2 linked regions of the Homo sapiens genome follow. The protein of the gene in region 1 interacts with the protein of each later gene in a pairwise test. Each region holds a gene or a part of one and is shown on either strand. Other genes may lie near its edges.

Evidence for each region. The genes of interacting proteins can lie anywhere in the genome.
Region 2: the proteins of USP2 (region 1) and STAT5B interact in binary tests that used the Homo sapiens proteins (3 or more experiments, as listed by UniProt).

The regions. Positions count from the first base shown.
Region 1 is NC_000011.10:119,357,356-119,364,860, forward strand, and holds part of USP2 (ubiquitin carboxyl-terminal hydrolase 2), read right to left. Parts: intron 6,854-7,505; exon of another isoform or gene 6,641-6,853; coding exon of another isoform or gene 6,494-6,640; intron 6,364-6,493; exon of another isoform or gene 6,349-6,363; coding exon of another isoform or gene 6,334-6,348; intron 2,880-6,333; coding exon 2,829-2,879; intron 2,306-2,828; coding exon 2,182-2,305; intron 1,988-2,181; coding exon 1,876-1,987; intron 1,780-1,875; coding exon 1,669-1,779; intron 1,483-1,668; coding exon 1,418-1,482; intron 898-1,417; coding exon 794-897; intron 707-793; coding exon 626-706; intron 481-625; coding exon 402-480; intron 236-401; coding exon 128-235; intron 1-127. UniProt on the Homo sapiens protein: Hydrolase that deubiquitinates polyubiquitinated target proteins such as MDM2, MDM4 and CCND1. Isoform 1 and isoform 4 possess both ubiquitin-specific peptidase and isopeptidase activities.
Region 2 is NC_000017.11:42,266,214-42,273,718, forward strand, and holds part of STAT5B (signal transducer and activator of transcription 5B), read right to left. Parts: exon of another isoform or gene 2,073-7,505; intron 1-2,072. UniProt on the Homo sapiens protein: Carries out a dual function: signal transduction and activation of transcription. Mediates cellular responses to the cytokine KITLG/SCF and other growth factors. Binds to the GAS element and activates PRL-induced transcription.

The DNA.
Region 1 (7,505 bases):
TCCCCCCTCCAACCTCTCCTTCTGGGTCTCTCAGTAGCTGGTGCTGGCAGCTCCCCTTCCTCCTGCCCTCCCTCCGGCCTTGCACACCTGCGTCTTCATTCTGCCCTGCCTACTCAAAGATACTCACTGGTGTTTTCTGAGGCAAATTCTCTTAAGTCCAGGTCTCTTAGGGGGAAGTTCACAAATGTTGTGAGCTTGCTGGTTCGGATCCTGGATTCTGAGAACCGCTTCAGATCTGGCATTGACGTGAGTCAAGGATAGTCAAACCAATGCAGAAGGGCAGACAACAAAAGGAAAGCCTACAAGGTCCGTTTCTTCCGACTGTTCCCCTCACCTATGGGCCCCTTGTCATCAGTCACCCTTGAAAGTCATGTCCCAGCCCTGATGGATCTTAAGGATACGGAGCACCAAGATCTTTGGGAACCTCTGGATGGAGAACTTCTTTATACACCGTTTTCTGCCTCGGCAGCGACAGCATGTCTGAGAGACAAGACAAACAGAAAGAACTTGTGGGGAAGTCAGTGGGCCCCAATCCAGTCACTCCTCAACTGGATCTGCTGGTATCAGCCTCTTCCCAGTAGGTCCCACGGAAATTTGTTCTTGCTATTACCGAAGGGTGACTTACTGGCTTTTCATCTCCATCAAGCACATCCTCTTTGGTGAAGAGCCTCATGCAGTCCATTAATGTCACCTCAGGATAACCTCGCTGGGAAGGGGAAAAAAGCAAAGGTCAGAGGTCAACATGAAAGGACAGGAGAGGGAGTTCAACAAGGCGGGCAACTGGGGTGCATACCTTAGCAATGGGCAGTGAGAGGTCCCAGAAGGGGTCGAAGACCGTAGAACAGTAACCACAATCTGTACACGTCAGCGAGCTCTTTAGCTGCCCAACAAAGAGATCTGGGGAAGAGAAGGCCATGAGATGCTGAAATACAGGAAGTAGAGCATGGTCTTCTGCACAGCAGCTTTTATTTTTTTTTTTGAGATGGAGTTTTGCTCTGTCCCCCAGGCTGAAGTGCAGTGGTGCAATCTCAGCTCACAACAACCTCTGCCTCCTGGGTTCAGTGATTCTCCTGCCTCAGCCTCCCAAGTAGCTGGGATTACAGGTGCCCACCACCATGCCTGGCTAATTTTTGCATTTTTAGTAGAGATGGGGTTTTGCCATGTTGGCCAGGCTGGTCTTGAACTCCTGACCTCAGGTGATCTACCCGCCTTGGCCTCCCAAAGTGTTGGGTTTACAGGCATGAGCCACCATGCCCGGCCTGCACAGCATCTTCTTTCTTGCTGTTCCTGCTTTGCTTTGTTGAACACTAGGCAGAAACAGGCTTCCCCGGGAGAGTGATTCTTAGGGCTTTTCATGCTCCACTCAGGCAAGAGCAGGCAACAGTGAAAACAGGCATCTTCCCTTTCATGCGCTTACCCCCGATCCTACTGTCTTCCCGTTCTAGATATTTTCTCCACATCTGTCGGCCTTTCTCGTCATCACTGGGAACCAGAGAGAGACAACAATTGGGTCAAAGCTCAAAACTTAAGTTTAAGGGTCTGTCAATTTTGATCCTTCATCTTCAAAAGTAAATCAGATTATTCCCAAATCATTAACCCCAAAGTGGTGGGTAAAAATCTCGAGTTCACAAAAGTTTTGCTTTCCCACAGCATTCTCCTCTTACTTACGGAAGATGATCGAGGTTCTCAGGGTTGGACTTAGGTCTCAGTGTCACTCGGTTCACCTCGTTATGGAGCCCATCCAGAAGAAAGCGAAGGAACTCCTGAGCATCCTGCTGACTGAACCCAAAGGAAGGAGGGTGAGCAACACCTCTTGTCCTAAGAACCTGCTCCTACTGCCACCCACCTGAGAGGACATGTCTGCAAGGCCCTTACTTATAGCCAACAAAGCGCGGTGCGTATCTCTGGATCTGGGTCTTGAACTCAGATGGGCTCACCACATCATTGGGGGATGAAGTCCATATGGTCTGAATTAGTTTTGCAAACTCTATTGGAAGGAGAGAGTGTACAGGACAGCTGAGATATTTTCTATAAGAAACTCTGAAACTAGAATCCCAACAAAAAGCAAGCAGAGAAAGACAGACAGGATAGGAGTGTCTAAGACACAACACCTAGAACAGCCCCAGTGGAGTGGAGGAGCATCCGGGGGTAGGCAGGGGCACATGACAGAGGGCCTCTCACCTTCCACGAGGGCTGTGTGTGCATTGCTGCCGTGGTGCAGGTCCCGCATGTAGAGCCTCTGGAGGCAGTAATCTCTCAACTCCCGAGTGTTGCTCAGGCACTGCAGAATTGAGTTCATGAAGCACTGCAAGAGATGACCAGGCAATCAGTGGGGAGACGAGAGTCCCACCTTCACCTGTGTTACTTACTACCAGAGGCTCTCTGGTTCATCTACCTAGAATCCTTTCATAGGAGGCTATCCTTTCATAGCCTCAAGTTCCTCTTTTCATAAGTGAAAGGGGTGAAGTGAGGCAAACCCCCACTCCAGGCATAGGTGACCTAATTGGTTATTTACTATAGAGGTGCACAAAAGGGCGTGATGTGATGGACAGAAGTGTGTGGGAAGTGATGGGCATCCTTTAGGGGAATGATCCAGGAGAGGAGCAGGCTGATGGGTAAAAGGGCAACTTCCTTTTAGCAGTGCTTCCTGCTGGGGGTGGGTAAAGCACAGCCCAGCAATTCTGTGAAACACCAGCCAGGAAGGGCAAGTGCCAACTGGCTGAACGGGTAGGGAGTCAGCCACAACCAGAAGGGGACTCTGGTTATATGGCTCCAGTCAGCATAGTAGGGGGTGGGCCTGGGGAAGAAGCAGGCCAGGAAAAACTCACCGTGTTCCCAAGGTTTCGAAGACCAGCCAGACCCTGGGCACTCTTAGAATTCTGTAAGCAAAGAACATATGGCAATAAGGTGGAAGCAAAGATGCTAGGCCTGTGCTGGGCTCTCTCGTGCAATTTCTAACCAGCTGGAGCCACAGGCAGCAGGCCACACATAATATTCTTTCTTCAACTTTACCCATCTATGTACTTTGTAGGAAAGAGGATTGAGGAATGCCTGTGATTTTCTTTTCTTTTCTTTTTTTTTTTTTTGAGACGGAATCTCACGCTGTCACCCAGGCTGGAGTGCAGTGGTACGATCTTAGCTCACTGCAACCTCCACCTCGTGGGTTCAAGCGATTTTCCTGCCTCAGCCTCCTGAGTAGCTGGGACTACAGGTGTGTGCCACGATGCCCGGCTAATTTTTTGTATTTTTAGTAGAGACAGGGTTTCGTCATGTTGGCCAGGCTGGTCTTGAACTCCTGACCTCAGGTGATCCACCTGCCTCAGCTTCCCAAAGTGCTGGGATTACAGGCGTGAGCCACCGCGTCCTGCCTAAATGCCTGTTATTTTCAACAACCAACAAAAATATTCTTCAGGGCTTTATTGAGTGTGTATTGACTATGTATCTCCCTGCCCCCCATCTTTATGTTATTCTCTATTCTCTGCTACAGTGGAGACTAGGAATTCATATATTTGGTACATATTGACTCCTTACTATAAGAAATTTTGAGTCCCAAATCCAGGTGCTATCTCAAATGACCTATATTTGTACTCCTAGAAGTCCAATATATAAAGTAACTCTCATAAGAGACACTTTGAGGAGGTTTTGAAAAGTTAAACAACAAAACACCTTGAGTTTCGATCTTCAGTTGGGAAAAACTCAAGTAAGCCTGCCATTCTGAATTGCCAGAGACAGGTGGAATTCCTTCCAGCTGAGCTCAGCTCCTAAGGGCTGATTAAAGACTCGGAGAATCCTCCCTGCCTGGCTCAGGTTTCAACATCCTGACTGGCCACTGTCTGGGAATCCTGGAGATGGCAGATTGGGCCCGCAGAGGCAAGGGCCTGGCTGAAATTGCCACTCTTGCTGTTGGCCCTATAGCGGAGGCGGGTGAGGGGGTTGGAGAGAGAACAGGTGCTGGATCGAGGACTCTGAGCTTATTTGTCAAGGTCTCTTGGCTAATCCTGGGCATATCTCCAAGGAGTCAGAAAACCTTCAGGCTCAAAGGGTTAAATAAACAGTTTGCAGATGAGTCTGCCACCCCCTCTCTCAGGGAGGGGACTGGGAGCAGGCAACTCTGGAGCAACACTGGGGCATGCGTGGGGCCAGCTCAGCCCTGATCAGAACAGGAGCCTGAAATAACTCAGCTAAAATTACTCATGCCGTGTGCTGACAGCCTATGAGGCTGTCAGCAGCTCAAAGCCCATGAGGTTGTCAGCTGGGGGGGAGGGGTGTGGGTGGGGGAGGAGCAGGCTGAAGGAGGGCTTTTCTCAAGAACTGCCTTACCGATCCCACAAGTAAGAGGATCCCTTCTTGGCCAGCTGTCAGGGCTAGCACTAACAGGTAGGGAAGAAAAATATACCCAGAAAAGAGACCCAGTTTAAACCTGCAGCTAGAGAGAAAGGCCAATTGGCAGCAGGTGGGATATAAGCATCCTTAGAGAACTTGGCTAGGGCTGGCAGTATATGGCCCCACACAACATCTGAATCTGACTTACTGACAGTCAGCAAGAGGGCCGCAACAGAGATAATTCCCTGGGACAAAGACCTTCTCAGCATTTTCCAGAATTGGTGAAACGCTGCAAAAGTCTCCATGTTGCGCACTCGGAACTAAATGTTAAAGCTTGCCCACAACAGAATACCCACCCTTACGTCTATTTTTGGCAGTGCTTTATTAGTTCTTAGCCCCTGTGCCTCAGATGACATCTGTCTAAACAGGCTGTAGGGGAAAGCATTCTACCACTGGTGACCGTGTCAATGTTCACCAAAGCAGGCCCTCAGCTGAGACAACAGTCACTCAGTGCTAATGGGGGTAGGGAAATGGGAAAACGGAGTCATCTGTCTACAGAAGCACTCCTGTGGTGTTTTAAGATGTTGACACTTAATTCTGACCCAGCAGTGAGGGGCAAGAAGGACACTTCGTCACCCACGATTACTATTCTTGAGGATCTAACCCCTCTATTGGCCTGGGGGGTGGGGAGATGGGAGAAGCTCCTTTAAGGCATCCTTAGGACCCTTGGTTGTTATGTTTTAGGGTGGGGGTTGATGCCTTTGTCTAAAATTTCCTCAGCTCAAAACCACATGCCAGTTTCTAGGTGCTCTGTGTAGAAGGCGGGTGGATAACAGGAGTGGGGGCGACAGAGGAGGGGGAGCAGGGCTGCTCCATGCCCAGCCAGATATTCTTCTGCCAAGAATAGGAAATCAGGAGCTCCAGGGAAAGTCAGCACTTTTCATTACAGAGGGGAACAAAATGTCCCCAGAGTGACCTTTCTTACAGGACAAACAATCCTACCTCAGGGTCGACAGGGAGAAAGGGGCCAGAACTGCAGAAGGTGGGAGACCCTGCACAGCCAACCTCTTTCGGTGAAAGCCAGAGAAGGAAATGACCCCAAGTGTTATGCTGGGACACATGTGCAAAGAGTTGAGAAAGTTTGGACCCAGTCTTCCTTCCATTCAGCCATCAGCAAACCTAGTTTTGACTCAGTATCAAGCACTGTTGCAGGGAGCAGATGGCACCTTCACCATCAGCAAATAGACAGCTTTCACCTTCTAGAGGAGAGGAGCGGGGGCTCAGGAGAGCCCTGCCTGGGTTAATGCAGAGGTAGCATCTGGGCACCCTTCGGTAGGAGAGGCCGAGGTTTGTGTCTTCACACTTGAGACCCCAATCAAGGGCTTTCCCGCCTACCTCACCTGTGTGGTGAGGGTCGCCCCAAGTCCTGGCTGCAGCTAGGAAGCCTGGTGTGGCCCTGGCACGGGGCAGGGCACGCACTGCCAGCACGGGAGCTGGTGCCTGTTACATAAGACCTGTCAAAGCTCGGGCCCCTTCTCCCTTCCCCAGGCGGGCAGCGCCCAGCCTCGGCCCCGGCATTCCCCTGGGGGCTGCTTCCGCGGAGGGACCCGCTGCCCGCTGCATAAATGGAGAGGACGGAAAGAAGGGGAAGTTGCCCTCTGTCACCTGTCTGCACCTCGTCTGCCCTTCACAGGGTCAAAGGACCCCCGTCACCAACCCTTGGGAAAGAGCCCTTGGTGGACAGTGAAGGGGAGGCGGCCCCTTTCTGCCCAGCCTTCCTCGCCGGGGTTTGGCCTCGGAGGAGTACCCCGGCACGGTCCAGCGTGCTGCCCTCGCACACCGATCGAGACCCAGTCAAGGTTATGCTTTCCTGCACCTGTCCTGATAGGTGCCAGGAATTGAGAGGCCAAGAGCCACCACCTGGTGCCGGGGCCACCGAGAGGGAGGGGGCAAGGGGGACTTCCTCGGACCTCCACCCGGGGAGGGGACCACGAGTAAGCGTGCGATCACCTGAGGAGGGGGCATTCCTTGCCAGGAGACCCTGGGAAAGGAGGGGTGGGGGCTGGGAAGAATCCGTCCCCTCACCTAGGGGCGCGTGGCGGGCAGAGGCCAGGGAGAAGGCGGGACCCCAGGCCCTCGGCGCGGGGGTCCCGGAAAAGGGCCCGCGTACCTTGGCTTTGTTGAGCAGGAGCCCCACGAAGGTGGAGAGCAGCAGGGACGGGGAGAGAGGGGAGCGCGGCCGCAGCTCCTTGGCGAGGGCGGGAAAGGGGGCGGCGGGGGGGTCCTCGGGCAGGGTCACGGTGTACGAGGTGCGCATGCTGGGGGGCGGGCGGCGGGCTTTGGCCCTCGCTTAACGTTGGCAGCGGGGGCGCGGGGGGAGTCCCCGCGCGGTGCCACAGTCCGGACGCCGAGGCCGGCGAGACCGCTACAGGACAGCGTCCGCGGCGCCCGAACGCGCGCTCCTCCGCCTCAACCTCCCCGGCGTGCGCCGCCAACAGCCCGGGTCCCGGCTCTCGCGCTCCGGCCGACTGGCGGCCCCGCCGGCGCCTCGGGCCCCGCGACGTCAGCGCTGGGGCGGGGCCAGGCCCTAAGCCCCGCCCCACCTCGCCTCTACCCCGCCCCCGGCGCCGGCACGCGGACCCGAACGAGGCGACAAGGTCGGTCCTCCCCCGCCGGGCCTTCCCCGCGCTCCCCGGCGCCCCCAGCCCGCTGACCCCCGGCCAGGCAGGCCCGCGGGGGAGGCAGGACCGGAGCCCTGAGGCCCTGGCCGGCCTCGGGGTTGAGGCTCAGCTCGGGATAAGTGATCTTTGGGGCCCGCAGAGGACGTCTCCCCAAGACCCAGTGGCAACCGGGTGAGCTTCCCCCAAGGCACCATTACACTTCCTAACTCTTGAGGGGGCTGCAAACCATTTTGAGAACGTGATGAAAGCTCTTCTCTCTTCAGGGCGAAATACGTATATGCACAAACTTTTGTCTAGAGTTCCGGGGGTACTCAGGCCTTCGTGAAGACCCAAACTCATGCAGTCTGTGGAGGTCAATGTGCCCAGGTTAAGAAGATGGACCTTCACGGCCTAGGGGCTGAGCTGCCCTCCTCAAAACAGTCCTGTTTGGCTTCTTTCAAGAGAGGCAGTGCTCATGTTTTATAAGGTCCAATAGGTCACCTTCTCATTTGGCTCCTGAAA
Region 2 (7,505 bases), on another chromosome or scaffold:
TCTTCACATTTGGGTAATAAAAATTCAAAACTAGCCAGGCTCAGGGGCTCACACCTGCAGTCCCATCTACTCTGGAGGCTGAGGTGGGAGGATCACTTGAGCTCAGGACTTTGAGACCAGCCCGGGCAACATAGTGAGACCCCACTCTTTAAAAAATAATAATAATAAATTAAAATAATAAATAAAATTCAAAACCATAAATTTTGAGAATATCACATTTTTGGACAAAATTTTAAATGTGTGTCTAAAGTAATACGTTTTCTTACTTAAGGACCCACTCCTGGCACACTTCACTCATCCTGGGCAACAGAGCAAGACACTGTCTCAAAAAATAAAAAAAAAAAAAAAAAAATCATTCCCTTAAAATTATATGCTTTTTGGCCCGGTGCAGTGACTCATTCCTGTAATCCCAATACTGTGGAAGGTTGAGGTGGGAGGTGTGGAGGTGGAGGTGGGAGGGATCACCTGGAGACATAGCAAGACCCCTGTCTCTATTTTTTTTTAACTATGTGCATTTTTCTGGTATTGCAAAGTCAAGGGATCTTGCCTCATCACCAACTCAGCATGTGAATTGTAGCCATGCCACTCAGGAAGCCAAATATTTTCTATTTTGTTTTGATACCTTCAACATGAGGAGAAAGGCCAATCTCTTCATACATTACAATGAAATTAGTATTTTTACTTGATATTTAAACTCACTGCAAGATAAACTCATTTGTAAAACATGACTACACTCAGAGTTTCCATATATGTAGTCAGGCACCACATAATGACGTTTCAGTCAATGACAGACCACATATATCACTGTGGTCCCATAAGATAATAAAACGTAGCTGAAAAATTCCTATCCTCTAGTGACGCTGTAGCCATCATAATGTTGTAATGCAATGCATGACTCACATGTTTGTGGCAATGCTGGTGTAAACAAACCCACTGCACTGCCAGTCATGTGAAAGTCTAGCACATACAATTGCGTGCAGTACATACTTGATAATGATAATAAATGCCTATGTTACTGGTTTATGTATTTACCATACTTTTTATCGTTATTTTAGAGTGTACTCCTTCTACTTAAAAAAAAAAGTTAACTGTAAAACAGCCTCAGGCAGGTCCTTCAGGAGGCATTGTTATCACAAGAGATGACAGCTCCATATGTGTTACTGCCCCTGAAGACCTTTCAGTGGAACAAGATGTGGAGGTGCAAGACAGTGATACTGATGACCCTGACCCTGTGTAGGCCTAGACTAATGTGTGTGTTTATGCCTTCACTTTTAAGAAAAAGTTTTTAAAGTTTTGAAAAATTAAAAAGTTTTTAAAGTTTTGAAAAATTAAAAATTATTTAAAAAGAGAAAAAGTAAAAGAATAAAAACATAAAGAAAATATTGTTGCACAGCTGTACATGTTTATGTGTTAAGCTAAGTGTTACTACAAAAGAGTTTAAAAGTGTAAAAAAGTAAACAGTTGGCCGGGCACGGCGGCTCACACCTATAATCCGAGCACTTTGGGAGGTCAAAGTGGGTGGATCACCTGAGGTCAGAAGTTTGAGACCAGCCTGGCCAACATGGTGAAACCCCGTCTCTACTAAAAATACAAAAATTAGCCAGGCGTGGTGGCACACGCCTGTAATCCCAGCTATTCGGGAGGCTGAGGAAGGAGAATTGCTTGAACCGGGAGGTAGAGGTTGCAGTGATCCGAGATCACGCCACTGCACTCCAGCCTGGGCCACAAGAGCAAGACTCCATCTCAAAAAAAAAAAAAAAAAGTAAAAAGTTTACAAAGTAAAAGTATTACAGTAGGCTAAGGTTATTATTGAAGAAAGAAACAATTTTCAAAATACATTTAATGTAGCCTAACCAGACAGTATTTTTAAAATCTACAGTAATGTACAGTAATGTCCTAGGCCTTCACATTCACTCACCATTCACCCACTGAGTTGCCCAGAGCAACTTCCAGTCCTGCAAGCTCCATTCCTGTTAAGTACCCTATATAGATGTACCATTTTTTATCCTTTATGCCATGTTTTTACTGTAACTTTTCTATATTTAGATATGTTTAGATACACAAATACTTACCCTTGTGTTACAATTGTCTACAGTACTCAATACAGTATACATGTTCCACAGGTTTGTAGTCTAGGAGCAATAGGCTTTATCATACAGCCTAGGTGTGCAGTAGGGCTCACCATCTACGTTTGTGTAAGTACCCTCTATGATGGTACCACAATGACAAAATCGCCTAATGCATTTCTTAGAACTTTGTCACCATGTATCATTAAGTGACAAACGACTATAGTTACGTAACAATAACCAAAGAAAAATACAAAAAGAGGGACTATTTACATTGTATCCTTACATATTAAACCTTCCATGCCTTCGGAATAAGAATCTAGTATCCAGTTCTCACTATACATAGCTTTCCCTCACTTTCTATCAGAAATGAGATAGGAGTCCCACCTTCCTGGCATCAGAAACAGATCACCAATCCTGCAAACAAATTCACAGGGTGAACTGTTTCATTTTTAAAGAGCTGTAGATTTCTGTAGATCTCTAATTTGCTACTTTTCCTAAACCTAAAAGATGACCAAAAGATTTTTAGAAACATTAAACAAAAAAACAGAATTAGCATTATTTCTAACAGAACATTTTACCTATTTAAATATACTGTAGAATGAATGCTATATTACAAAGCTGATGAATTCCAATTTTTAGTACTTTAAGAGATCAAGTGTTCAAGTTTCTTTTTATATAGGCTACAATGACATGTATGAATGTAACTTAACATTTAGCCCAGGTTAGATTTTTTAAAATCCCACTCCTTCAAAAACAGTGACTTGCCACCAGCTATAGGCTCTGAATTTATTTAATTTATTTATTTTTTTGAGATGGAGTCTCGCTCCGTCTCCCAGGCTGGAGCACAGTAGTGCGATCTCGGCTCACTGTAACCTCTGCCTCCTGGGTTCAAGTGATTCTTCTGCCTCAGCCTCCTGAGTAGCTGGGATTACAGGCGTGCACCACCACACCTGGCTAATTTTTGTATTTTTAGTAGAGACAGGGTTTCACCATGTTGGCCAGGCTGGTCTCCAACTCCTGACCTCACGTGATCCGCTTGCCTCGGCCTCCCAAATTGTTAGGATTACAGGCGTGAGCCACTGGGCCCGACCTAGGCTCTGAATTTTAGACAACAAAAAATAGTTTCTCACAAACTTTTTAACTTACTCTCACCTAAAGGCTGGAAAACCCCAGTGAAGGCTTTTAAAACTCATCAGACATAGAAAAAAAGAAGCAGCTTTAATTGTAGGATCTCACTGACACAAACATAAGGAAATTCTGAGTTATAGATACCTCACATTAAGCTTTTTCCACTGACATTGTAACTTCTGTCAACATTCAAAGAAAATTCAACCCTGGTCAAAGGTGACAGTTGACAATCCTGGAAGCTAACATCCTCTGTTTATTTGAACAAGTTTATACTCTGCACAGGGAATTGAAGTTCTTCTTGTCTGTGACTTGATCTCCCAAAGTTAAAGCACTACGCTTTAGGGTTGTGAATTCTGTTTCCAAGACTTAACTTCACAATCCACTCCCAAGGAAAAGTGCTGAGAGAAAGTAAGCATCATAAATGAAAAAAAAAAAAAAATCTGAGACTATTTTCTAATGGCCTTTGCAGAGCTCTAGACATACAATAGTTCAGTTGCCTTAAAAATTCGCCCAAATAGGCTGGGCATGGTGGCTTATGCCTGTAATCCCAGCACTTCGGAAGGCCAAGGCAGGAGGATCACCTGAGGTCAGGAGTTCGAGACCAGCCTGGCCAACATGTCAAAACCCCGTCTCTACTAAAAATACAAAAATTAGCTGGGCATGGTGGCACATGCCTGTAGTCCTAGCTACTCCGGAGGCTGGGCAGGAGAATCTCTTGAACCCAGGAGACGGAGGTTGCAGTGAGCCAAGATCGCGCCACTGCATTCCAGCCTGGGTGACAGAGCGAGGCTCTGTCTCAAGAAATAATAATAATAAATTAGCCCAAATAAGTAAAATTCTTAAATCTGTCTCAGAAATCATGACTAATGCTCTAAAAAGCTTTAATGCAACAAGAATAGGACAGAAATCCCCGCAAAATAAAGTTGTAAATAAAATGAGTGGGATTGTTGAGTTCTCAGTACAGACGTGCATGTCAACACAAACCCACTACATTGGCACAAATGATCCCTTTGTTTGTAAACAGAGGCCAAGGAGACAGCTTATAGCTCTTCTTCTATGATGTACACGGTAATGCTAGGGGAAGAAGAATGAAAGACAACTTATAATAAAAATTAAGACTTTCTCTTCTTTAATATAATTTCCACCAGAAGTATATACTTTAATTGGAAAAATATTTATCACCATCTTCATCAACATTTAAAAAAATCCTAAACATATAAAAATATTTTCTATTCAAAAACCAACGAGACTCCATTTGGGAACACAAAGAAATACAAGCCTCAAAGAAACAAAATGTCTTATAACAAAGTGGCAGTGGCCAGCTCGCTTTTGCTGTACACTAGTTAGGGATGCAGTCTCTGGAATCAGCCCCGCCAAGAACAGTAATGTGACCTTGGACAAATTACTTAACTTCTCTGTGGCCATTTCTTCATCTTCCATCTGGGAATAATACCCACTCCTCTGAGAATCACGAGTTAACACAAGGCCAGAGCTGAAAACAATGTCTGCCCAGCACACTGTCAGTGAACGGTAAGCATTAGGTAATGTTTTTATTATCTTCACACTTGAAGGCGTTGGAACATTTTCTCAAACTCTGGGTTTTGAACATAATTTGAAGGACTTGTTAATTGTCTGCTCACCTCTCGAAAGGTGGCATCATAATGATTAGATACATAATCAGAATATCTTCCCAGGTGAGCCATGGTAAGCAGAGCTCTAGCCCAGAATGATGAATAGTTATTTTTAATACAAATCATGGATGTGGCTGTTACTGGCAACTTCGGCCTGATTTCCCATATGCAAAGAAATCCCCTACCAGGGGAAAACAAGCAATGTTAGAAACCCGTTGGGTTTGTCCTGTTATCATTACAGGGTAAAGCCAAATTCACATTTAGTAGCCTGATGGGCATTAAAAATATTAGTCACCAAATTAATCCCAACAAATAACAATAATTGATTGGCTCATTGATGTATTTCCCCTTGTCTTCCCCAACCTTTCTCTAACTAGTCAGAAAGGAAAGTTTTCATATTTTCTGAGAATCTCATTACTGCTCTCAAACCATGCTCTATATCTTAGTATAATTTAAAAAATGAGTCAGCACAAGCACCTCAGAAAACTAGCATAGAATATGAAGCTACTTCTCTTCATATTAGAAAAGTACAAAAATTTTTAAAAGGTTATTCAGGGTACCAAAGGTAATAGAAGGATACATGAAGAGTGAATGTTGCAGTAGATTTTGCAAGCTAGCTTCCAAAAGTAGGTAGAAAAAGATAAATGTTCTTCATCAATCAATCAATACAGGTATTCATCATCTCAGTGGTGTCATCCATGTGAAAATGGACATAGTTATTAAGAATAAACCTAAAGAAGAAACCATCTTGTATGTGACAAATTATAACTTCTCCTTTCTTGAATATTGGGGCAGCAGGGGAATAGGAAGTCAAGATACTCCAAGTATTAACTTCATTTGCAAATTGAATTGTACATAATTGTGCACCATGCTAATGCAATACTGCTTTTAGTAATGGGATCCAAATGAAAATTTAGAAGAGGTAAACTCCCCCTAAACTGCAAACACATCTGAATGTCAATTCAATTAGGAGTCTATTTAGTTATTACACTTCTTAGCATAAAGCGAGTTAAAGGCCAGGAAAAGAACACTTGCTTTAATCACTGAAACAATCTACACATATTTCTCAAGGCTCCACTTAACTCATCCTGCAACATTTATATTAAAAGTGACCTATCACTTAAGTGATCCAGGAGAGTAAAGGAAGAGTTTTAAGGCTGAAGGTGATTCCTCCTGAGCTCTAATACCATACCCTGAATTTCACCTTGTTCTTAACTCTTTTCCATGACACTGTGTATGGCTTTTAAGCGAGTCCAGAAAAACGGCTATCATTACTACTTAATATAAACCATGGGGTTCTGTATCATGTAAACCCAGAGCAACTCCTCTTTGAAGCACCGACATTCAAGGCTCTACATAACATGTTTCAACTCTATCTTAGTGCTATACATTTTCCAAGTACCTGCGAGGAAACAGATAGCAGCACCTCCATTTTTCTGTAAATTGTGCTTTTGTTGCTGTTCTAAGACTCCTTCCAAGGCTGTTAAACTTTGAAGAGAGTTGGGAAAAGACAAGAACATCTTGCCTTCCCGATTGGGTATTCAGGCTTCACTCAGTAAAGCTGTCATGAAGTAGCGCAAAGGGTCAGAGACAAACCACATGGCATCTGATGTTTGTCTGTATAAGTTTAAAATAAAAATGTGACACTACAAGAAGGTTAACATGTGGACCTAATTTTGAAAATACAAACAGGAAGCACCCCCACCCCAATATTACCATTTAAAAAAAAAGGAAACCAAACCTCAAAGATACCTTCCAAGGAAGTGATGGGTGTGACCCAAACTAACAAAAGTAATAAAACGTCACTTCAACTCTGAAACCATCAAAAGTGAGGGTCTCATTCAACCAACTAAAAATCTAACACCTGTAAATTGCTCTTCTCTTTTGATTAGTAAAAACAGCATAGATTTAGATGTGCAAAATCTTCTCCAAACTGACATAGGCTTTTCAGTAGCAGAGGATCATCATTAATAAAACACCCAATGTCAAGATTTTACTTCAAATAAGGCCACTATAATTAACAGTGAATACAATTTTAAAAAGTATTTATCACTCTGATGCTTAGAACTTAAATTTAAGTACAAAAACTGTCTGATCAATGGAAACTAGATTGTTAAGTTTGACTTTCTTATTCCCAGAAATAAGCATAAAACTGTTGTGTTTCCAACACTGCAGGAGAAAAAAAAAAACTTCTGATTTTAGAAGAGTTCTATTCACAAAGCTCAGAATTAAAAACATTTTCTTCCTTTAAATACCACACATTTGAGGACAGCGATAGTGCAGAGCTAACTTTGAAGCATTATTTTTATTAAGTTGCACAGTTAAAGTATTTTGATACTTTGATATTTTATAGTATCAAAATAAAAGGATATTCTTCTCAAGAGTCCAGTAACCTGGAATTGCCAGATAGCTTTTTAAACGAATAAGTTTCAAATTATCAGAAAAATCATACAAACTAGGGTTATTTTGCTTCCTTTTGTAGGAATAATGCAGTAATCTGCACTCTTAACAGAAAGGGAAAAAATGTGTCACAGATAGAATGTCCAGAAATCTGTGAATAACTTTATGAGATACAGACATTTTTGTAGGGCACGAAAATAGTTAGGCTTCCTTCGATTCCACCTGTAACCTGCATCTAATCTTGAGCATGTTATTTACCTATCTATAACGTCTTCCT